Homo sapiens: one gene and its partner. The protein of the gene in region 1 interacts with the protein of each later gene in a pairwise test. Each region holds a gene or a part of one and is shown on either strand. Other genes may lie near its edges. The genes, in order: ANXA4 and PADI4.

The links.
Region 2: the proteins of ANXA4 (region 1) and PADI4 interact in binary tests that used the Homo sapiens proteins (3 or more experiments, as listed by UniProt).

The regions. Positions count from the first base shown.
Region 1 is NC_000002.12:69,798,125-69,809,631, forward strand, and holds part of ANXA4 (annexin A4), read left to right. Parts: intron 1-663; exon of another isoform or gene 664-874; intron 875-5,268; exon of another isoform or gene 5,269-5,391; intron 5,392-6,408; coding exon 6,409-6,503; intron 6,504-8,260; coding exon 8,261-8,374; intron 8,375-9,781; coding exon 9,782-9,872; intron 9,873-11,507. UniProt on the Homo sapiens protein: Calcium/phospholipid-binding protein which promotes membrane fusion and is involved in exocytosis.
Region 2 is NC_000001.11:17,337,015-17,348,521, forward strand, and holds part of PADI4 (protein-arginine deiminase type-4), read left to right. Parts: intron 1-1,023; coding exon 1,024-1,141; intron 1,142-2,673; coding exon 2,674-2,799; intron 2,800-4,928; coding exon 4,929-5,107; intron 5,108-5,284; coding exon 5,285-5,388; intron 5,389-9,013; coding exon 9,014-9,125; intron 9,126-10,926; coding exon 10,927-11,034; intron 11,035-11,507. UniProt on the Homo sapiens protein: Catalyzes the citrullination/deimination of arginine residues of proteins such as histones, thereby playing a key role in histone code and regulation of stem cell maintenance.

The DNA of each region.
Region 1 (11,507 bases):
CAGAGGGGCATTTACTGGGGGGAAAATAACCTCCCACCCAACCCCAGGAAGTATTATCATTAGGAGTTAAATAGTCTTTGAGATCTGGATCATGGAATTCCCCTGTCTGTAAAAAGTCAGAAAAACAGCAATCCCTTAACCTGCATTCCTGGTTACTACGGTGGTTGCTAAACCTGCCTAATTGAATTATTTCCTGGGCTATAAAAATTCCTGCAGCATTGCATACAGAGAGGAGATGGGAGACATGGTGACTGCAGAAAGGAAAGGAGGAAAATAAGATTTGCAATAGGAAAACTTGGAGATCCTATGGCTGACACCCAGTCAGGCAATCAGAGGCTGGGGTCAGTCCAGGAGCCTTTTGAATAACACCAGGGTGTGGCCCTGGCCAGAAATTCTCAGTTGCTCCAGGACCTATTCCAGCCCCATACAACAACCAGGCTTTCTGTGAAAAGAAACTAGTTTGGACACAGCCAACATTCCCGGCACCCTGAGGGCAGGTCCTCCCCAGCAAGCCTCACATCTGAGTCTTCAAGACTGGTGGCCAGCCCTTGTGGCTCCTTAATCAGCTGTCAGATGCCCGGTGTTTTTGATAGTTATTTGAGAGAATAAAAACGGAGGACAAGAAGCCTCGGAAGTGAAAGTAGAGTCCGCTCCTTTACTCACCATTCTGATGAAGTCACCTTCAAATCCCAGACGAGCCCTCAAAATGAAGCAGCCTTGTTGTCTGGGGTGAATACTGAGGTTCTTGGTCACACGACCAGATATTGAGGTCAAGGACATGCACACACACATCGAGTGAGTTTGGAGCAGGAGTTTAATAGGCAAAAGAACAGAACAGCTCACAGTCACAGAGAGGGGTCCCGAGCAGGTTGCTAAGCAGTAGTAAAAATGTCAGGGTTTTTATAAATGGTCTAGGGAGGAGGGGCCTCATGAGGAGGGGATGTCTTATCCTCTTAGGGCCTGATGGTTTAGCTGCGACCAAGTGTGCTATCTATATAGAGCAGAATTTTTTTTATCAGCTTTTATCCCATTCCCTGACCACATAGGCTGACTCTTAGTCTGTGTTTCTTTGTCTTGCTTATCTGGGAGGGAGAGTTTCTGTGTCTGTTCCCATACATCTTCTTGCAGCTGCAGGCATCCGCCCCATGAGTCTGCTTTTAGTTTCTCTATCTTAGTGCACCTAAAGGGAAAGGAATGTGCTTATTAAGACCCACTGTTTTACTGGGGCCCATTGTATAAGTGTGAAGTTTGGCAATTACCCAGGAGACTTCCACCCCTTCTTCTGTGCTTGAGCTGTCTTATCTGTATTTTACAGCCTGAACTTTCAGGTTACTTGTTGTTAGAAGAGAAGTGATTTTTTTTAACTGTGTGTGGTTAGAAAGGGAGCTATTTTTGAGCTGCTTTTTGTTAAAAGGAAAGTTTTCTGCTGGGGACTCACTTTACCCTAAATGTCTACCTAAATAATTTCTTTTTGCCTCCTATAACACTGGTAGTGTCTTCCAGCATGCTACCCTCCAGTTAGCTCCTTGGGGGCCAACACCTTCATGCTGGGTAGGTACAGTGATTCTATGTGCACCACAAACTACCTGGCCTAGCCTCTGCCCCCAAGACCTTGTCTCAGTAGACTTTTGGCCAGAGAAGTATCCCCTGGTTCTTAGCTGCTATTTAGAATCTCCTTGAGATTTGGGTAAAAACACTTGACCATGAGACCATCTTTCTATCCAAAAAGAATTCATTTTACTCAGCCTCAATGTTGCTAACAGTAACAACAACCGTAGCAATAATAGAAAATGTTTATTAAGCTCTACTATGTGTCAGACATAGAGATAGATGCTTTCCATGGGTTATCTGTTTTAATCCTGACAGAAGCTTGTCTTACTGTTGAGAAGGTAAAGTATAGTGAGTGAGGCTGGCTGACTTGCCCACGGTCTCAGAACTATTAAGTGGTATATTCAGGATTCTAGATAATTCCTAGAACACTTTCCTTTCATCTTTGCATGATCAGCTGCCTCAAGTCTGATTCCAGAGCTGGAGTTCAAGCCACTGTTCTATGCTGCTGCCCATCTCTGAAGAGAACATTGTCCTGAATCTATGTATCTTCTTCTTTTCCCTTTTTCATAAAAAGAGAAAGGCATAGGACCCACCTTTTTTTTCAGTTTATCCTAATTCTTTGGTTACAAGGACACCATAATTCAAAATGTAGCCCATGTTACATTCAGAATTATCAGCATAAAGGGTGAGGAGACATTTGGCACAACCAACCCCTTTTCAGTGCCTGTTATGTGTGGGCCAATGCAAGGCAGACTGTTGGAGAAGACAAGGATTATAATCCCTAGTTCTTGTGTTCAAATAGTCTATGAATACTAGCACAGCTAAGGCATGCACAAAAATAACTATGATTAATTCATAATATAACAGTGACAGGAGGGGCACAAATAAGATCCCACTGGGGTTCAAAGAGAAGAGATCACATTTCACTTGGGGGCATCGGGCAAAGCTTCTTGGAGGATGTAGATGTTAAAATGGACCTTGGGAGATGATTGAGTTTCTGTAAACAGAATTAAGGGACAAGGTGTTTCAGGTGAATGGAATGGCATGTGCGGAGGTCTAGGGGAGTCATGGTAAATCCACAGAAAAGTGTCTTGCAGCAGTGAAGTGGCCTCGTCTGGGGTGACACCCATGGTTTGTTGTCTCACGGCCACAGATATCAAGGACGTAGACACACAAAGAGTGAGGTTAAGAGTGGAAGTTTAATAGGGAAAAGAAAGAGACTAGCTCTCTGCTACAGAGAGGGATTCCAGAAAAATGGGTTACCAATTCACGGTGAAATGCAGAGGGGTTTATAGATGAGCTGTGGCAGGCACTGGGGGTTGGGGGGCTGATGTCTGATCTACATAGGGCACCAAAAACCAGTTAGAAACAGGTGTGCTATCTGCATAGGGCATGAATCTCTGACAGTCCCTACCCCAGTCTTTTATTATGCAGGTGGGTTTTCAGCCTGAGCTGTACTGTATTGGTCATTTCTTTCTTACTGTACACATGCTAACAAAAAAGGGAAGGTGGAGTTTCCATGGTGGACATGCCTGGCCCCCAGGTAGCCCTTTTCTGTTGGTACAGCGGCCAGCATTCCCTTGTGCAAGCTTTCAGTTTCCTTATCTACGTTTGTAGCTTGATTTTTCAGGCTGCTCTTTGTTAGAAAAAAAAATGATTTTGGGGGCTGCTTTTTGTTACAAGGGAAGTTCTGCCAAGGACTCTTTTGCCCTCACTATCTGTTTTTTGTTTTTTTTTTCTTTTTTGAGATGGGGCCTCGCTCTGTCACTCAGGCTGTGGCATGCACTGGCATGATCTTGGCTCACTGCAACCTCCACCTCCCGGGTTCAAGTGATTCTCATGCCTCAGCCTCCTGAGTAGCTGGAATTACAGGCCCCCACCACCATACCTGGCTAACTTTTATATTTTAATAGAGACAAGGTTTTACCATGTTGGCCAGGCTGGTCTTGAACTCCTGACCTCAAGTGATCCACCCACCCCAGCCTCCCAAAGTGCTAGGATTACAGGCATGAGCTACCACACCCGACCTGCCCTCACTATCTGCTTAAACAATTTCTTTCTATCTCCTGTATCAGCAGGAGGTACTTGCAAAGCAGAAGTAGGCTGGTTGGGAGCTTTCTGAGAAAGCAGGTACCAGAAGGAGGTTTTAGGGGTGCTACTGAGAAAGCACCCATAAGAATCACAGACATGCGGGAATGACCCACAGGCACTGGCTGGGAAACAACATATGACAGAATCATGATGCTAAATGGAGGGGGTTAAGAGGACATATAAACCAATAGACTGGTAATGAAGGGGGTCAGGAGCCTGGAGTGCAGCACAGTTGGGTAAAGCACAATATTTCAAGAGCTGAGTCCATGAATTTGGCTGCCTAGTGTCCTTTTATGTGGCTATTTACAATAGTGAATGGGATACTGTAGAGAGTCTCAAATGTCAGGCTGCAGTGCCTAAAGTAAATCCAGCAGATGATGGGGAGCCATTGTGTATTTCTGAGCAGGGGAGAGACATTGTGAGAGTTTTTCTTTTTACAAAAATGAATCTGGCAAGACTCTGGGAAGACCAACCAGGAGTTAAGAATACTAGTTAGCAGACATCTGCACTTGTCTAAGAAGAAACCCTGAAATCTTGAATTGGAATGGTTGTGATAGGAAATAAAAAGAGTGAAAGAATGCAAAAGAGGCTGTAAAGCAACATTTTGCATGACCGTGGACTTGAATGAAGAGGAAAGGAGAGGGTAAAAAAATCAAAGCTATTGGGCTGGGTGCAGTGGCTCACGCCTGTAATCCCAGCACTTTGGGAGGCCTAGGTGGGCAGAGCACAAGGTCAAAAGATCGAGACCATTCTGGCCAACAAGGTGAAACCCCGTCTCTACTAAAAACACAAAAATTAGCTGGGCGTGGTGGCGTGCACCTGTAGTCCCAGCTACTGGGGAGGCTGAGGCAGGAGAATCGCTTGAACCCGGGAGGCAGAGGTTGCAGTGAGCCGAGATGGCACCACTGCACTACAGACTGGCCACAGAGCAAGACTCTGTCTCAAAAAAAAAAAAAAAAATTGAATCTATTTTGAGGATTTCAGCTTGGCTTGACTGGGGGGAAGAGTGATCCCTTTCACAGAAACAGGGAATGAACAAAAGGTAATGAACCCTCTCTGCCCCTTCCACACCCCCTCCTAGCTGAGAGTGCCAAGGGAGAAATTGATTGTTATATGGATTGTCCTCTCCTTTTTAAAAATAGGAACACGGCTGGGCATGATGGCTCATGCCTGTAATCTCAGCACTTTGGGAGGCTGAGGCAGGTGGATCGCCTGAGGTCAGGAGTTCAAGACCAGCCTGGTCAACATGGTGAAACCCATCTCTAGTAAAAAATACAAAAAAAAATTAGCCAGGCATGGTGGCAGGCACCTGTAATCCCAGCTACTAGGGAGGCTGAGGCAGGAGAATTGCTTGAACCTGGGAGGGAGAGGGAGTGAGCTGGACTGCACTCCAGCCCGGGTGACAGAGCGAAACTCCATCTCAAAAAAAGAAAAAAAAAAAAGGAACAGAAAGTAGGTCCCCAAGGTATGTAAACTTAAAGTTCTATAGCTTCCTCTCCACACCTCACATCTTTTTGCATCTCTAACCTTGCCAAGGATAACTAAAGTTTGGCTGTATTTTTTCATTTCTCCCTGAAATATTTTCAATAGAATCATTTCTGAAACCCATTCCAACCCCCCATACAGCACAAACAACGAGGAAACAGAAGATTCACCAAACATTTATGAACAGCCAGCTGTTATAAAGACAAGGGACCAATCTGAAAAATCAGAATAAAGTCTCCTTGTTAAAGCTGCTGCAAGAAACAGGCAAGCAAAACTTAGAACATTTTTAATTTGTAATTTTTGCTTAAAGTTTTGGTAAGATGTTGTATCATGGTAATTTGTCAGCAGTTCTAAAAGGGAACCATTTGTGTTCAGGAAAGATAGCTTAGAAGTGCAAAACATAGTTCCAGATTTTAAAACACAGTGAATGCAGTAACAGCCAACTTAAACTCTGCAAAATGCCAAATTGGTGAATTAACAGACAAGTTTGAATTGTTTCAAAACTCAGAGGAGATGATAAAAAGATAAAAACAAAAAAAAAGGCAAGAATATGGAAGAGAGAGAGAGGAGATTCAAAAGACATGAAAAGAATTCTAGAGGAGATGGCTGGGCGTGGTGTCTCACACATGTAACCCCAGCACTTTGGGAGGCCGAGGAGGGCAGATCATTTGAGGTCAGGAGCTCAAGACCAGCCTGGTCAACATAGTGAAACCCTGTCTCTACTAAAAACACAAAAATTCGCTGGGGGTGGTGGCACAGCCCTGTAATCCCAGCTACTCAGGAGGCTGAGGCAGGAGAATCGCTTGAACCCAGGAGGCGGAGGTTGCAGTGAGCTGAGATCGCGCCATTGCACTCCAGCCTGGGTGACAGAGTGAGACTTTCTCTCAAAAAAAAAAAAAAAAAAAAAATATTCTAGAGGAGAGAAAAAATTACTCCAGCCAACATTTATTAAATGTTTAGTAAGTGCTAGGCATTTAATTATATTAACACTTGCAGCAGCCTATCGAGGGAAATCACTGTCATCATTCACATTTGCAGATAAGGAAACTAATGTTTAGAAAGTTAACCATTTTCTTCAGTAGTAAACAGCTAATTAAAGGAGAGGCTAAGTCCCGAACCTAGCATCTGTTTCCCAAAAAGTAGACAAACCCTCTGAATAAGGGCCTCTTTTCTTAGAAAGCCCTCTGCATGTGTTTGGGTAACTCCAATGTCCACAGAGGAACCTGCTTTCTCATTCCTCTCTCAAATCACACTTACCTGCTGTCTCCCTTCTTCCCCCAGGCACCGATGAAGACGCCATTATTAGCGTCCTTGCCTACCGCAACACCGCCCAGCGCCAGGAGATCAGGACAGCCTACAAGAGCACCATCGGCAGGGTAGGCCACAGTCTTTCCTGCTCTGTCTGGCTGACTTCGCAGCAACAGGAAGCAGGGCCTCTTCCTGATCTAGGTTCCCGAAGTGACCTTGTGTTTTAAAAGATCGATCCTTTGTCTTGTTTAAAGATGTTCTTGAGGCCAGGTGTGGTGGGTCACACCTGTAATCCCAGCACTTTGGGAGACCGAGGTGGGTGGATCACTTGAGGCCAGGAGTTTGAGACCAACCTGGCCAACATGGTGAAACCCCATCTCTCCTTAAAAAATACAAAAATTAGCCGGGCATGGTGCTGAGCACCTGTAATCCTAGCTACTTTGTAGGTTGAGGCAGGAGAATTGCTTGAACCAGGAGGTGGAGGTTGCAGTGAGCCAAGATCATGCCACTTCACTCCAGCCTGGGCAACAGAGACAGACTCCATCTCAAAAAAAAAAAAAAAAAAAAAAAAAAGAATAGCGATTCAGCTCCTTCTTCGTCAATTGATCTTAAACAAGTTCTTAAACTCTCTGACCCATTCCAGGAGGAAATGTGAATAAACATCTTTAGAATTTGGTCCATTTTCCAAATAATTATATTTGGAAACTATATCTCAGGAATTGAGCCTTAAGAAATAGTCATGAATGATCACAAAGATACAACTAAATGCCTTATGTATATAACAGTAGAAAAATAGAAACAGGTGACTAGTTAAAGAAATTAGGCTGGGTGTGGTGGCTCACACCTGTAATCCTAGCACTTTGGGAGGCCGAGGCGAGTGGATCACTTGAGGTCAGGAGTTCGAGACCAGCCTGACCAACATGGTGAAACCCCGTCTCTACTAAAAATACAAAAAAATTAGCTGGGCATGGTGGTGGGCACCTGTAATCCCAGCTACTTGGGAGACTGAGGCAGGAGAATCGCTTGAATCCAGGAGGCGGAGTCTGCAGTGAGTCAAGATCGTGCCACTGCGCTCCAGCCTAGGCAACAGAGCAAGACTCCATCTAAAAAAAAAAAAAAAAGAAATTATGTTGCACCTATCTATAGAAATCTCCACAGCTGCTAAAAAGGTTATCAGTGAATATTGACTTGGAAGTATATTCAAGACATATTGTTAAGTAGGCAAATACATTTACATCGGTGTCTACAAACATATTCACCTCAAAGTTCCTTTACCTCTTAAATTTTTTAGGACTTTTGGTTTTGTGGGTTATATCTTTTGATATTTGCCCTATTAGAAACTAAAACTGAGGGCATTTAAAAATAGATATTTGTTAACTTAGTAAAAATAATAAGTATATTGTATGTTACTGTAAATAACATTTTAATGAAAAATAGCTATATATCCCAAAACGAAAAAACATTTAGTGAGAAGATTGGCATTGTTTTACATTTTGCAGATCTCTTTAATGTCTGGCTTAATGGAAGACAGATGGCTTCTCATATCTATTTCTACTTCAATTTGTTATGATATGTGGTTTTGGTTGGGGTATATGAAGAAAATCTGGCTTGTACAGATATGTACTTGAAAATGGGGGGAGTATTTGAACAGACAGTTGTTGATGCACAGACAATGTCAAATAGCCTTAGGAAAACCCCACTGTATGCTTGTGGAAGAATGACAGTGAAAAGGCAAATAACATCTGAGTGTTATTCTGAGGATAGTTTTGACTTGCAGGCCCCTTGAAAGGGTCTTGGAGACCCCAGACATCCCTGGACCACACCTGGAGAGTAGCTGGTCTAATTTGCTATAGCAGTTAAGCGGAGCTACTTTCTTGCATTGCAGGACTTGATAGACGACCTGAAGTCAGAACTGAGTGGCAACTTCGAGCAGGTGATTGTGGGGATGATGACGCCCACGGTGCTGTATGACGTGCAAGAGCTGCGAAGGGCCATGAAGGTCTGTGCTCTTCCTCTCGTGCTCTTGGTGCTGTTGGTGCAAACGCTGATGTGCTTTCTTAAGAAACTGTCACCCAATAAGAAAGACATGGAAGCAACCTAAACGCCCATCAATGGTAGACTGGATAAAGAAAATGTGGTACATGTACACCATGGAATAGCTGTAAAAAGGAACAAGATCATGTCCTCTGGAGGAACATGGATGGAGCTGGAGGTCATTGTCCTTAGCAAACTAAGGCAGGAACAGAAAATCAAATACCATATGTTTTCACTTACAAGTGGGAGCTAAATGATGAAAACACATGGACACATAGAGGGGAACAACACACACTGGGGCCTGTTGGAGGATGGAGGGTGGGAGGAGGGAGAGGATCAGGAAAAATAACTAATGGGTACTAGGCTTAATACCTGGGTAATGAAATAATCTGTACAACAAACCCCCATGACACAAGTTTATCTATATAACAAACCTGCACATGTACCCCTGCACTTAAAGTAAAAGTTAAATTTTTTTAAAAAAGAAAGAAACTATGACCAAGGCCTTCTGAGAGTAGCAGGTGTAAAGTATAGGAGATTTTCCTTCATTTACGACAACTTGAAAACATCATTACTTTACATTATACCAATTATAATTTAAAAGTTCTTTTCCAAAAAGTTAGGGAATCATTTGCTCCTTCCTGTGGCTCAATGGGGAGTGATTATAATTGTCGCTTTTAGTACAGCTCTAGAGACTTTTAGCTATCTCTAGACAGCTAACTACTTTTGAGATATGTAACTTTATGACTGACACTTTAGGGGCCTCCAGGTCTACTATAGGCTTACTTCTGGCAAAAGAGTTCCTGGCTTCCCTAGATGACGTACCCACTGTGCCCTAGCCTGGTCTGCCAAATTTTAATGACCAAGTATGTAATGCAAATATAAATGGTCCCCACCTTAGGATGGTTCTACTTAAAAATTTTCAGTGTATTGTACTCCTCATCATAAGTCGAGGAGTACAATTATCCTCCTCAACCATGTCAATAAATACTCAGACTTGTGGAAGGTTCTGGGCCAGGCTCTGGGAAAGCAAAGAGGTGACAAAGTCTTTGCCAGAAAATTCTGCCCTTCAGAGGAAGAGAGCAGAAGAGGTCAAGGAAAAATTAAGTCCCCAGAGGGCAGAAACCATACCTACCCGGGCACAGTAACGAACACATAATAAACAGCCTAGAAATGTTTGTTATTACTCATAATTGTTACGGCAAACACTTTGGGTTTCGGGTGGGACAATAAAAGTGAACAAACCCTGTTGTTAGAACGCAGTGGATTGTCTTTATTCTCTGCAGATTCATGACAGATGTATTCCTTCTGTGTCTGGGCCTCAGCTTTGTAAACTGGCTCATATAGCCCTGTCCTCTGGTTTCTTGTTTAGGGAGCCGGCACTGATGAGGGCTGCCTAATTGAGATCCTGGCCTCCCGGACCCCTGAGGAGATCCGGCGCATAAGCCAAACCTACCAGCAGCGTACGTGACATCCGCAGTGGCCCTGGCTGAGGTTTCGCTGTGATTAGAGAATGAGGGTAGCAGCGGGTTGTTGTTTGCTGATTAGACTTTTCACAGAACGCTGAGCATGAGGGATCCTCGGTGCCAAGCTCTGCTTCGAGGGAGATCCCTGTTTAGCCAAATGGCGGTCTGTTGGCTCCTTAAGATTTCTCAGGTGAAGATGACACTCTATTTTGCCTACCCAGTGCAGTATTTTATTACCCTAAAAGTTGGAAAGTTGTTCCTTATTATCAGACAAAGAATCTAAGGTACTTGTTCAAAAGTGGTGGCACCAGCAGATCTTAGCATTCCAAGGAATGGTCTGGAGGGGCCGTCTGGCCCAAATTCTTCCCTTCAGACTGGACTGTACGTCCTCCAGCCAAATCAGAATGACAGCCATTCACTCCCCCTTAGAGACCTCCAGAGGGTGATACGTATGAAGTGCCTTTAAAAAATGCCTGACTTTTTGCCCTAAGAATATAACTAAAAATGCACAGAGGTTCAGATCTCACAGTGTTTATTCAGCATTGTCTACATTAGCTAAAAATGCCCAAGAGTAGCAGATTGTCTAAACAAAATATTATACACTTACACAATGAACTATTATGTAGTCATTAAAACTTATATTAAAGAGTATTTTTTTCTTTTATTTAGCCTTTTTTTTTGAGACAGGGTCTCACTCTGTTGCCCAGGCTGGAATGCAATGGCCCCATCATAGCTCACTGCAACCTCGACCTCCTGGGCTTCAGCAACCCACCCACTGCAGCCTTCTGAGTAGCTGGGACCACAGGTGTGCGCCACCACACCCAGCTAATTTTTGTATTTTTTGTAGAGATGGGGTTTCGCCATGCTGCCCAGGCTGGTCTCAAACTCCTGGGCCCAAGCAATCTGCCCACCTCCGCCTCCCGAAGTGCTGGGATTACAGATGTGAGCCACTACACCTGGCCAAGAATACTATTAAAATATTTATTAAATGGTTTGGTATATGTAAGTGAAAAAGACAAGCCATAAAATAGTATGCTATGATCCCATTTTTAAAAAATTAACACAGTTAATAACACAGTATTTTTTAAATAAATGAAAATAATTTGTGCATGTGGGGGAAAATGAGGAAGGATATTTACAGAAATGTTGTCAATGATTCTTATTTCTGGGTGATTAGACTGCAGTGGAGTTCCTCGCCTTGCCCCTTCTTTTTACTTATTTGTTTTTTCCTAAGCCTTCTGTGGTCAACATGTGTTACCTTTATAGAAAGAAAACAACCACAATAAGAGCTTTGTGGGAAGTGTTCAGAGCAGGAGATTCTAAACCTTAGGAGTCTGGATTTAGCAACCCAATCCCCACATCTGCCCAATGAGGGTTTTCTTCCCTGAGGGCTGTGAAGGGCTGGAGCTTCTCTTTTCGTTTTTGCTTTTTAAAAATTAATTATGAAGAAGTGATTTTTAATTTCTTGCTGAAGCTCCCCCTGCCTATTTTTTTTGACACAGGATCTCGCTCTGTGGCCCAGGCTGGAGTGCAGTGGCATGGTCATGGCTCACTGCAGCCTTGACCTCCCCAGGCTGAGATGATCCTCCCACCTCAGCCTCCCCTGTAGCTGGTACTACAAGCATGCGCCAA
Region 2 (11,507 bases), on another chromosome or scaffold:
ATAGTACCACACTTTGCTGAATGAGTAATTAAGAGTTCACATAATAGTAACTATTTAGATTAGAATATTGACATACATATTTAGCTGCATTTGGTTTGTCAAGCTCAACATTTTATTTATTTATTTATGTATTTATGTATTTATTTATTTATTTATTGAGATGGAGTCATGCTCTGTCTCCCAGGCTGGAGTGCAGGGGCGGTTCACCGCAACCTCCGCCTCCCAGGTTCAAGTGATTCTCCTACCTCAGCCTCCTGAGTAGCTGCAATTACAGGTGCATGCCTCCACGCCCAGCTAATTTTTGTATTTTTAGTAGAGACAGCGTTTCGCCATGTTGGCCAGGCTGGTCTTGAACTCCTGACCTCAGGTGATCTGCCTGCCTCAGCCTCCCAAAGTGCTGGGATTACAGGTGTGAGCCACTGCGCCCAGCCAACATTTCTTAAAAGCTGTTAAAATCCATGTGACTGTCTTGGGCTCCTTTTTTTAAATGGATGAATTGTGTTTTGGGTGAATTTGGTTGTGACTTTTGGAGTAAAAGGCAAAAATCCACTCCTGAGATCAAATAATTAATTGATGTGGAAGCAAGATGTGTAAACTGCACTGGGTTAAAGAAGTGATGGGGGCCGGGCGTGGTGGCTCATGCCTGTAATCCCAGCACTTTGGGAGGCCGAGGAGGATGGATCATGAGGTCAAGAGATTGAGCCATCCTGGCCAACATGGTGAAATCCCATCTCTACTAAAAATACAAAAATTAGCCAGGTGTGGTGGCATGCGCCTATAGTACCAGCTACTCAGGAGGCTGAGGCAGGAGAATCACTTCAACCTGGGGGGTGGAGGTTGCAGTGAGCCAAGATCACGCCACTGCACTCCAGCCTGGCAGCAGAGGGAGACTCCGTCTCAAAAAAATAATAAATAAATAAATAAATTTTAAAAAAGAGGTGATGGGGAGTTGCTATGCCTCTTGCAAGAGTTGGAGGGCTCTATGCTAGTTTCTGAGCATGACTCTTCCCTGCTGGTGTCCAGAGGACCTGGACCTGGGGCCCTTGTGGACAGGGTGCCATCCTGCTGGTGAACTGTGACAGAGACAATCTCGAATCTTCTGCCATGGACTGCGAGGATGATGAAGTGCTTGACAGCGAAGGTAAAGAGCATTTGCTAGCTAACGGGAAGGGCTTTTTATAAAGCCCTTTTGCCCACATAGCCTGAACCTGGTGACGGCCCTCTGAAATAAGGGTTATTGAAAGCATCTTCTTGTTGGCAAATCTGTTTTATAGGTGAAGCAATGGGCAAAGGCCCTCGGGGGTCAAGTGACCTCCCCAAGCTCACGCAGCGGTCAGGGAAGAGCTGAGGCCAGTGCTGTCTCCTGATGCCTCCTACAGGCCCTGGTTTCCATGCCTCACCCTGCTGCCCAACCTAAACGCTCTTAGGTCAAACCTGGAGCCTGAAATCCTTCGAAATGAAAGCTTTTCATTCCCAAACTCATATCAGAGCAGGCCCTGAGACCTCTGCCATAGGCCGGGCACGACTCTGACCACTTTGGAATGATTAACTCATCTGATCTTCCAACACAAACCTTTATAGGTAGGAAAACCAAGGCACGGGGAACTTAAGCAATTTGCCCAAGGTCACAGCACTGACACGTAGCAGACTCGGGGTTTGAACCCCGGACGTCCCAACACCGGAGCAGGTTTAGAGGCATGAGGATGGTGGGGAATGCAGGATCTCTGCAGGCAAACCTCTGGGCTGCTAAGGGGGTGGCTCCGGGGTTGAAGTGAGGAAACATTATCCACCTGCGCTGGAGGAAGGTGCTAAGGGGCTCTGGCTGGCAGGCCTTCCTGGGGAGCTCTTAGAATAACATAGAAATGGATGTATTTTCAAGTTGCATGTAGTTGGCCTGGCCCGATGCCAGGGGACAGCCTCTGTACAGTGCCTGACATGCGGTAATAATCACAACAGCTGTCCTTTGTGGGCACTCCCGGGGTGCCAAGAGCTGGTATAAGCACTGTGTATCACCTGACTTTATCTTCACAACCATTCTACGGTGGGTACAACTCTTGCCCCTGTCTTAGTGATGAGGAAACAGAGGCAGAGAAAGCTGAAATCCGTTTCCTAAGCCCACCCAGATCCCAGATTCAAACCAAATTGACCGCAAAGCCTTTAAGCCCTTGGCTATCAGTCAGTCCCTTGGGAACCATCTCTTCACTCTCCCCACCCTCTACCCCTTCTTGGCTATTGTTCAAGTTGGTTCACAAACCCCACTTCTTGCTCAGGACCAGCACAGAAACCTTTCACTCGTTCATTGCACAAATCTCAGCCGAGCGCCTGCCGCCTGCTGGTCATTGTTCTAGGGAGTTCTCGGCTTTCTAGGTTCAAGATTCAGGGAACGTTGCAAGGAGCAAAATATTAATAAATGTGGTCCCCGCTTTGCTGAGGTTACATCCCCAGCTCATCCTAGTGGGAGGAGACCAAAACCTTAATGAGCTCTCATTCCAAAATGAAAACCATCATTTAAATACTCAAAATAGCATAAAGAAAAGAAAACCAGGCAACATGGTAAAGGGAGGTCTCAGGGGAGCGGTGGGGTGTGAGGCTCCACCAGGAGGTGAGGTGGCTATGGGAAACCAGCAGCGGTCTCAGGGCCCTGTGACTCAGGCAATGCCCTTCTCATCCCAGACCTGCAGGACATGTCGCTGATGACCCTGAGCACGAAGACCCCCAAGGACTTCTTCACAAACCATACACTGGTGCTCCACGTGGCCAGGTCTGAGATGGACAAAGTGAGGGTGTTTCAGGCCACACGTAAGTCATCCCCATCTTTGTTCCCCTCCTGCCCTGGCCAACGGGGCACAATCCTGTCACACAGCTGTGTGGCAGATAAATCCTGAGCACCTACTATGTGCCAAGTTCTAAGAACAGCAGACGCAGCAGTGGGCAAGACAGACGACATCTCGTCTACTACCTTCCAGTTGGAGGACACAGACAAAATGACTCGTTATTGCTCCCTGCTTTTCTTTCTCTCTCTCTCACACACGCGCGCGCACACACACACACACACACACACACACCTCCTGGTTATAGACTTTGAGTGCAAGCTGACAGCATGTGGCATGTAATCATTTGTTCTGCAACATCCTGCTAATCAGAGACATCAGGAACTTCTCAGTGACCCACGAGCACCTGCAACTAAGTAGGTGCCAGGTTGATCCCAGGCACGGGGCACAGAGCCATGACTGTGACCGAGTCCCTGCCCTCGTGTTGCTTTCATCTTAGTGGCTGGGAGAACTATAGGTAAAATAATTACATAAAACACCTAGTGTGTCCAACGCTGTGACATGCTATGTAGAAGAATGCGGCAGGGAAGGGGATGTGGAGTGAGGAGTGGAGTTCGGGTTGTGTGGAGAGAGGGTGGCCAGGGAAGGTGTCCCCCATGAGGTGCCATGTGAGCAGAGGGAGGTATAGGAACAGCCAGACAGACACCTAGGGGAAGGGCGTTCCAGGCAGAGGGAACGGCAAGTGCGTGGGCCCTGAGGTGAGATCATGCCTGTGGTTTGGAGGAATGCAGGGAGGCTAGTGCAGCTGGGGCGGAATGTGCAAGGGTTAAAGTGGGGGATGAGGGTGGAAGAGACAGGGCAGAGGGGAAGGGGGAGGTCAGGTAGGCGTATATTGACTTTGGCTTCTGGATGGAAGGAGATGGAGAGCGCCATGGGAGGGTTTTTTTTTTGCATGGGCCTGACAATCATTCTGATCCTGATCATTCTGCCTGGTCTATTCCAAGCTTTTTTTTTTTTTTTTTAATTTTTTTTTTTGAGAGAGTCTCACTCTGTTGCCCCGGCTGGAGTGCAGTGGTGCCATCTTGGCTCACTGCAGCCTCCACCTCCTGGGTTCCAGAGATTCTCCTGTCTCAGCCTCCCCAGTAGCTGAGGTTACAAGCATGTGCCACCACATCCAGCTAATTTTTGTATTTTTAGTAGAGATGGGATTTCACCAGGTTGGCCAGACAGGTCTCGAACTCCTGACCTCAAATGATCCACTTGCCTCAGCCTCCCCAAGCACTAGGATTACAGACACCATGCCCAGCCTCTGTTTCTTTTTTTTTTTTTTTTGAGATGGAGTCTCTCTCTGTCGCCAGGCTGGAGTGCAGTGGCGCAATCTCAACTCACTGCAACCTCCACCTCCTGGGTTCAAGCAATTCTCCTGCCTCAGCCTCCCGAGTAGCTGTGATTATAGGCATCCACCACAATGCCTGGCTAATTTTTTTGTGTTTTTAGTAGAGATGGGCTTTCACCATGTTGGCCAGGCTGGTCTGGATCTCCTGACCTTGTGATCCTCCTGCCTCGGCCTCCCAAAGTGCTGGGATTACAGGCGTAAGCCACCACACCCGGCCTGTTTCATTCTTAAAGTGATTAAACTGACACTGATTTGGTGACAGGTCAACTTATTGCCTCCACCCAGGCATCACCTCCTCCAGGAAGTTCTCAGGGATTCCCTCTATCACAGCTGTCTGCTATTTTCATGATCTCTGCTTCTCCCTACTCACCCGTAAGACTGTGCACTCTCTGGGGGTGAGGATAGGAGGACAGTGACTCTGTCTCCCTGGTCCCCTGCTGTGCCCCTGTCCCCCGCTGACATCTGGCTAGAGCAGATGCTCAGGAATGAGTGAAGGAATGGTGTATACTGGACTTCCTATAAAGTTTGGAATAGCTCAGGCACCCCTGCCACACCCTTCTGGGACTTCAGCCGGGGAGCAGCGTCCCAGCTAGAACTTCAGTCCTTTTCTCCTAAGGGGACTGGCCAGATTTGGCTGCAAGGGGTTCTCTGATGGTGCCATGTGGTGACCCTGGGAAAGGCTTCTGGGGAGCACTAAGGAGAGGAGGAAAAGTCTTCAGAAGTGGGGACGCAGACCTGAGTCTCCCCTGCCTCTCTCCTAGGGGGCAAACTGTCCTCCAAGTGCAGCGTAGTCTTGGGTCCCAAGTGGCCCTCTCACTACCTGATGGTCCCCGGTGGAAAGCACAACATGGACTTCTACGTGGAGGCCCTCGCTTTCCCGGACACCGACTTCCCGGGGCTCATTACCCTCACCATCTCCCTGCTGGACACGTCCAACCTGGTAGGCCGAGAAGGCAGCCCTGCATCGGGGGCCTGGGCTTCCAGGCAGTGGCCTGGCTAGGGAAAGGGGTACAGAGCCCAGCTGGGCAGGGGGACTCCAAACAGCTGCAGGAAGTGGTAGGTGCTGGGCCCTGGCAGCGGTGACAGCCCCTCCTTCCCCTTACCCCCTCCCCTGCAGGAGCTCCCCGAGGCTGTGGTGTTCCAAGACAGCGTGGTCTTCCGCGTGGCGCCCTGGATCATGACCCCCAACACCCAGCCCCCGCAGGAGGTGTACGCGTGCAGGTGAGAGGTCCTGGGGTGCTGGGGTGGGTCCAGACAACAAAGAGCCTGAGTTCCATCCGCAGCACTCACTGTGTGATGGGAAAAACAGTCACCCCTCCCCTGCCCACTGAGAGCTTGCTGCTTGTTGGGGGCTCTAAAAAGGCAGGGAAGTTCCCTACTGTTGTTGTCATTGCCTCTGTCCTGCCCTGATGCAGCTGAGGCTACGTTAACTCCCAGGGGCCTGTAGAGTGTGTCCCATGGACCTTGTGCACCAGAAACTCCTGGGAACTCATTTAAAATGCACCTTTCTGGGCTGGGCACGGTGGCTCACGCCTGTAATCCTAGCACTTTGGGAGGCTGAGGCAGGTGGATCACTTAAGGTCAGAAGTTTGAGATCAGCCCAGCCAACATGGTGAAACCCTGTCTCTACTAAAAAATACAAAAATTGGCCGGGCGTGGTGGCGCATGCCTGTAATCCAGCTACTCAGGAGGCCGAGGCACGAGAATTGCTTGAACCCTGGAGGCGGAGGTTGCAGTGAGCTGAGATTGCGCCACTGCGCTCCAGCCTGGGCAACACAGTGAGACTCCATCTCAAAAATAAAATAACCAGCCTGGCCAACATGGTGAAACCCCGTCTCTACTAAAAATACAAAAAATTAGCCAGGTGTTGTGGCATGTGCCTGTAATCCCAGCTACTCGGGAGGCTGAGGCAGGAGAATCACTTGAACCCAGGAGGCCAAGGTTGCAGTGAGCCGAGATTGCACCATTGCACTCTAGCCTGGGCGACAGAGCAAGACTCCGTCTTGAGAAAATTAAAAATAATAAAAATTAAAAATTAAATTAAATTAAATTAAATTTAAATTAAATAAAATGCACCTTTCTGGCTGCCTGTGAGCTGCTGGGTCTTATCCCTGAGGACGGGGCCCATCTGCATTTTGGGGAGGCCCAGGCAATCTTCCTGCAGTCTGAGAGCCGCTGACAAGTGTGCTGGGGTCTCAGGAGACCCTCTCCTCCCCTCTTCTGATAGCTTCAGGGGCAGAAGAGTAAGAGGGTAATGTGGTCAGGACGCAGGCTGGAATCCAGTGAGGACTGTATTCCGGTCCCAGCACTGTTCCAGGTGGTGTGACCTTGAACAGTGAACTCATATTCTGTCTTCTCCCAAGTTGATATGGTTTGGCTCTGTGTCTCCACCCAAATCTTATCTTGAATTGTACTCCCACAATTCCCACGTGTTCTGGGAGGGACCTGGTGGGAGATAATTTGAATCATGGAGGTGGTTTGCCCCATACCATTCTCATGGTAGTGAATAAGTCTCATGAGATCTGATGGTTTTATCAGGGGTTTCCACTTTTGCATCTTGCTCATTTTCTCTTGCCGCCGCCATGTAAGAAGTGCCTTTTGCCTCCCACCATGGTGTCCCCAGCCATGTGGGAGTGTAAGTCCAATTAAACCTCTTTTCCTTCCTAGTCTCAGGTATGTTTTTATCAGCAGCGTGAAAATGGACTAATACAGTAAATTGATACCAGTAGAGGGGGGCGTTGCTGAAAAGATACCCAAAATGTGGAAGCAACTTTGGAACTGGGTAACAGACAGAGGTTGGAACGGTTTGGAGGGCTCAGAGGAAGACAGGAAAATGTGGGAAAGTTTGGAACTTTCTAGAGACTTGTTGAATGGCTTTGACAAAAATACTGATAATGATATGAACAATGAAATCCAGACTGAGATGGTCTCAGATGGAGATGAGGAACTTGTTGGGAACCGGAGCAAAGGTGACTCTTGTTATGTTTTAGCAAAGAGACTGGTGGCATTTTGTACCTGCCCTAGAGATTTGTGGAACTTTGAACTTGAGAGAGATGATTTAGGGTATCTGGCAGAAGAAATTTCTAAGCAGCAAGGCATTCAAGAGGTGACTTGGGTGCTGTTAAAGGCATCCAGTTTTAAAAGGGAAGCAGAGCATAAAAGTTCAGAAAAGTTGCAGCCTGACAATGCAATCGAAAAGAAAATCTCATTTTCTGAGGAGAAATTCAAGCCAGCTGCAGAAATTTGCATAAGTAACAAGGAGATTAATGTTAAGCCACAAGGCAATGAGGAAAATGTCTCCAGGGCATGTCAGAGGTCTTCATGGCAGCCCCTCCCGTCACAGGCCCAGAGGCCTAGGAGAAAATGGTTTCGTAGGCCAGGCCCAGGGTCCCCATGCTATGTGCAGCCTAGGGACTTGGTGCCCTGCATCCCAGCTGCTCCAGCCATGGCTAAAAGGGGCCAGTGTAGAGCTCAGGCTGTGGCTTCAGAGGGTGGAAGCCCCAAGCCTTGGCAGCTTCCACATGGTGTTGAGCCTGCAAGTGCACAGAAGTCAAGAATTGGGGTTTGGGAACCTCTGCCTTGATTTCCAAAGATGTGTGGAAACGCCTAGATGCCCAGGCAGAAGTTTGCTGCAGGGGTGGTGTTCTCATGGAAAACCTCTGCTACAGCAGTGCAGAGGGGAAATGTTGGTTTGGAGCCCCCACACAGAGTCCCTACTGGGACACCACGTAGTGGAGTTGTGAGAAGAGGGCCACTGTCCTCCAGACTCCAGAAGGGTAGATCCACTGACAGCTTGCACCGTGTGCCTGGAAAAGCCACAGACACTCAACACCAGCCTGTGAAACTGGCCTACCAGGAGGGAGGCTATACCCTGCAAAGCCACAGGGGCAGAGCTGCCTAAGACCATGGGAACCCACCTCTTGTGTCAGCATGACCTGGATGTGAGACCTGGAGTCAAAGATCATTTTGGAGCTTTAAAATTTGACTGCCCTGCTGGATTTTGGACTTGCATGGGCCCTGTAACCCCCTTGTTTTGGCCAATTTCTCCCATTTGGAATGGTTGTATTTACCCAACACCTGTACCCCCATTGTATCTAGGAAGTAACTAGCTTGCTTTTGATTTTACAGGCTCATAGGAGGAAGGGACTTGCCCTGTCTCAGATGAGATTTTGGATTGTGAACTTTTGGGTTAATGCTGAAATGAGTTAAGACTTTGGGGGACTGTTGGGAAGGCATGATTGGTTTTGAAATGTGAGGATATAGGATTTGGAGGGGCCAGGGGCAGGATGATATGCTTTGGTTCTGTGTCCCCACCCAAATCTCATCTTGACATGTACTCCCATAATTCCCAAGTGTTGTGGGAGGGACCCAGTGGGAGATAATTTGAATCATGGTGGCAGTTTCTCCCATACTGTTCTCATGATAGTGAATAAGTCTCATGAGATCTGATGGTTTTATCAGGTTTTTCTCCTTTTTCTTCTTCCTCATTTTCTCTTGCCACCGCCATGTAAGAAGTGCCTTTTGCCTCCCACCATGGCCTCCCCAGCCATGTGGAACTGTAAGTCCAATTAAACCTCTTTTTCTTCCCAGTCTCAAGTATGTCTTTATCAGCAGCGTGAAAACGGACTAATACACGGGTGGAAGGGGTACCCACTAGTTCCTGCCTCATAACTTGTTAGATGGATTCCATGAGCTAATGCCTGCTAAGAGCAGATGGACCGGACGTGCCAGGAGCCTCTGTTCAGGCCACAGGTGACCCCTGAGCCACCTGTGTGTCCCTCCCAATCCTTCCAGGCTGAGCTTCAAATTCCAGAGCACTAAGGAGCTGCTTTTCTGCTCTCTCTAGTATTTTTGAAAATGAGGACTTCCTGAAGTCAGTGACTACTCTGGCCATGAAAGCCAAGTGCAAGCTGACCATCTGCCCTGAGGAGGAGAACATGGATGACCAGTGGATGCAGGTATGTGCCCTGCGGGGCAGGCAGGGTGACTGTCCCTGAGGGCCAAGAGACACTTGGGGGACCCGGGCTCCTGGGGTTCAGCCTGGTGCCTCACCGGCCACTCTTCCTTAGATGGACAGGGAGATAGGAACCTGAGAGATCCTTGGGCCGGGAGGCTCAAGCAAGTGATTCATCTGACGTTTGCTGTGGGCCACTGCAGGCCCACTGCAGTCACCAAGATGAAGCCACCTTCCTGCTTGAAAACACTCAGGTGGCCTCAGGAAATGATGTGAAGCTCAGGAGATTGGTGCTCAACCAGCCCCTCAAGTGGTCCTCCCTCCAGGCTGTCCATCTTGGGCCCAGCCACCAAAGCAGGTCACACCCCAGCTCCAGCACTTTCCATGGCTCCCATCTCCTCCTGCTTAGTCTGTTTCCAGGCCCTCTCAGCCTGCCTGGTTCCCTTCCCTGGGGCCAGCCTGCCACTGTGCCTGGAAACACATGATTACCAGTCTCTGTTTCCGTGCCACTCCCCCATCATGCCAGGAGTGCCCCAAGGACTGAGACTGGGCCTCATCCAGCCTAGCACCCTGACCCTCCCCACCACTGCCTTGCTTTGCCTCGGGACCCTGTCCTTCCATGCCGCACCCCTGCGGTGCTGTCTCTTGGACCCATCTCCCCATTCCCATCCCCCATCTCCAATCCATACCGGTGAATCCCAGCACAAATGCTCCTCGTCCATAAATTTCCCCCATCACCCCCAGCAGGAATTCATCCCTCTTTCTTTTCACCCCCACACAACATCCTTTCTTCCTTTCTTGCCATTCCATCTTTTCTTTTCTTTTTTTTTTCACTCTTGTTGCCCAGGCTGGAGTGCAATGGCTCGATCTCGGCTCATCACAACCTCTGCCTCCCGGGTTCAAATGATTCTCCTGCCTCAGCCTCCTGAGTAGCTGTAATTACAGGCATGTGCCACCACGCCTGGCTAATTTTGTATTTTTAGTAGAGATGGGGTTTCTCCGTGTTGGTCAGGCTGGTCTCGAACTCCTGACCTCAGGTGATCCACCCACCTCAGCCTCCCAAAGTGCTGGGCTTACAGGCATGAGTTACTGCACCTGGCCGCCATTCCATTTTTTTGATACCAAGTTGACCTGTGTGAAATTGCTGATATGTGCCATTTTTGATTTGCAAGAGTGGAACTTTCATCTGGTTCATCCTAATAGTAACTTATAGTAGTGATTATGTCCAACATCACACCTGCCTGCTAGAATACAAGCCTGCGGAGGCGGAATTTTCAGCAGATTCATTTCTGAAACCTCCCCGTGCTCCTCCTGCTGCTCCAGTGGCCCAGGCTGGGTCTTATCTGCCCTCCTTTGGGGAGGAGGCCGCGAGCTCTGGCGCCAACAGGTCTTCTCTGGCCCATCCTAGCTGCATCAGGAGCCCCTCCTCTGTGTCCCCACAGACCCCTCAACCCCTCACCCCCCATCACCTCCTAACCCTGGTGCCCACTGCCTGGCTCCCTTGTTTTCTCACCTTGAGGAGGGGTCTCAGTTTTGCTCACCAGGGGTCCCCAGCACTGGCCCAGGCACCACCAGGAGTAGGAGGGAAGGGCACTCCTGCAGGCTCATGGCCTCTCGTGCACTGGGCAAACAGGGGGCAATAAGCTCCGCTTCTGAGCCCCTTCTCTGAGATCAAACATCCCATAGGAATGTGCCCTTGACTGCAAGGGTGAGAGTGAGTGGATGGTTTCATGCCCCCATCCTGGCGTCGGGCACCAAGACCCAGGCAGCACGCGCAACAGCCTCCTCTCCACTCACTCCCACAGGATGAAATGGAGATCGGCTACATCCAAGCCCCACACAAAACGCTGCCCGTGGTCTTCGACTCTCCAAGGAACAGAGGCCTGAAGGAGTTTCCCATCAAACGCGTGATGGTACCTGCATGGGGTGGGGAGGGGGCACAGCTGCCGAAACCCTCTTGTCTTGAGACTCCCTCCTTTTAGCCTGCCTTCCCCGCCCGCGCCTGTAGCTGAGTAGCCCAGTGCAAGGAGGTGGAATTCCTACCAAAGTGGGAGCATGTAGGTGGGGCTTGTTATTTTTTTATTACCAAGATAAGATCTGGCTCTTCATTTCCCAAAACCCTTGTCACCCGTGAGCTCAGCTTGATCTCCAGGTAACCCTGCCGAGGAGGTGGCTCAGGCTTGGACCTCCCTGTGCTCTTGAAGAAGCTCTTGCTGCAAGGTGGAGGTGGGGCCGGGGCTGGAATCTTTCCCAATGCCCAGCTGGAGGCTCTGTCTTATGGGTGGTGTTTGGTCTTCAGGGGCTCCATCTGGGATATGGGGGATTTTGGGATCAGTGGATCAGTGGTCATTTCCTGGGTGTGACTTTATCAGCCACAGGCTGTCCA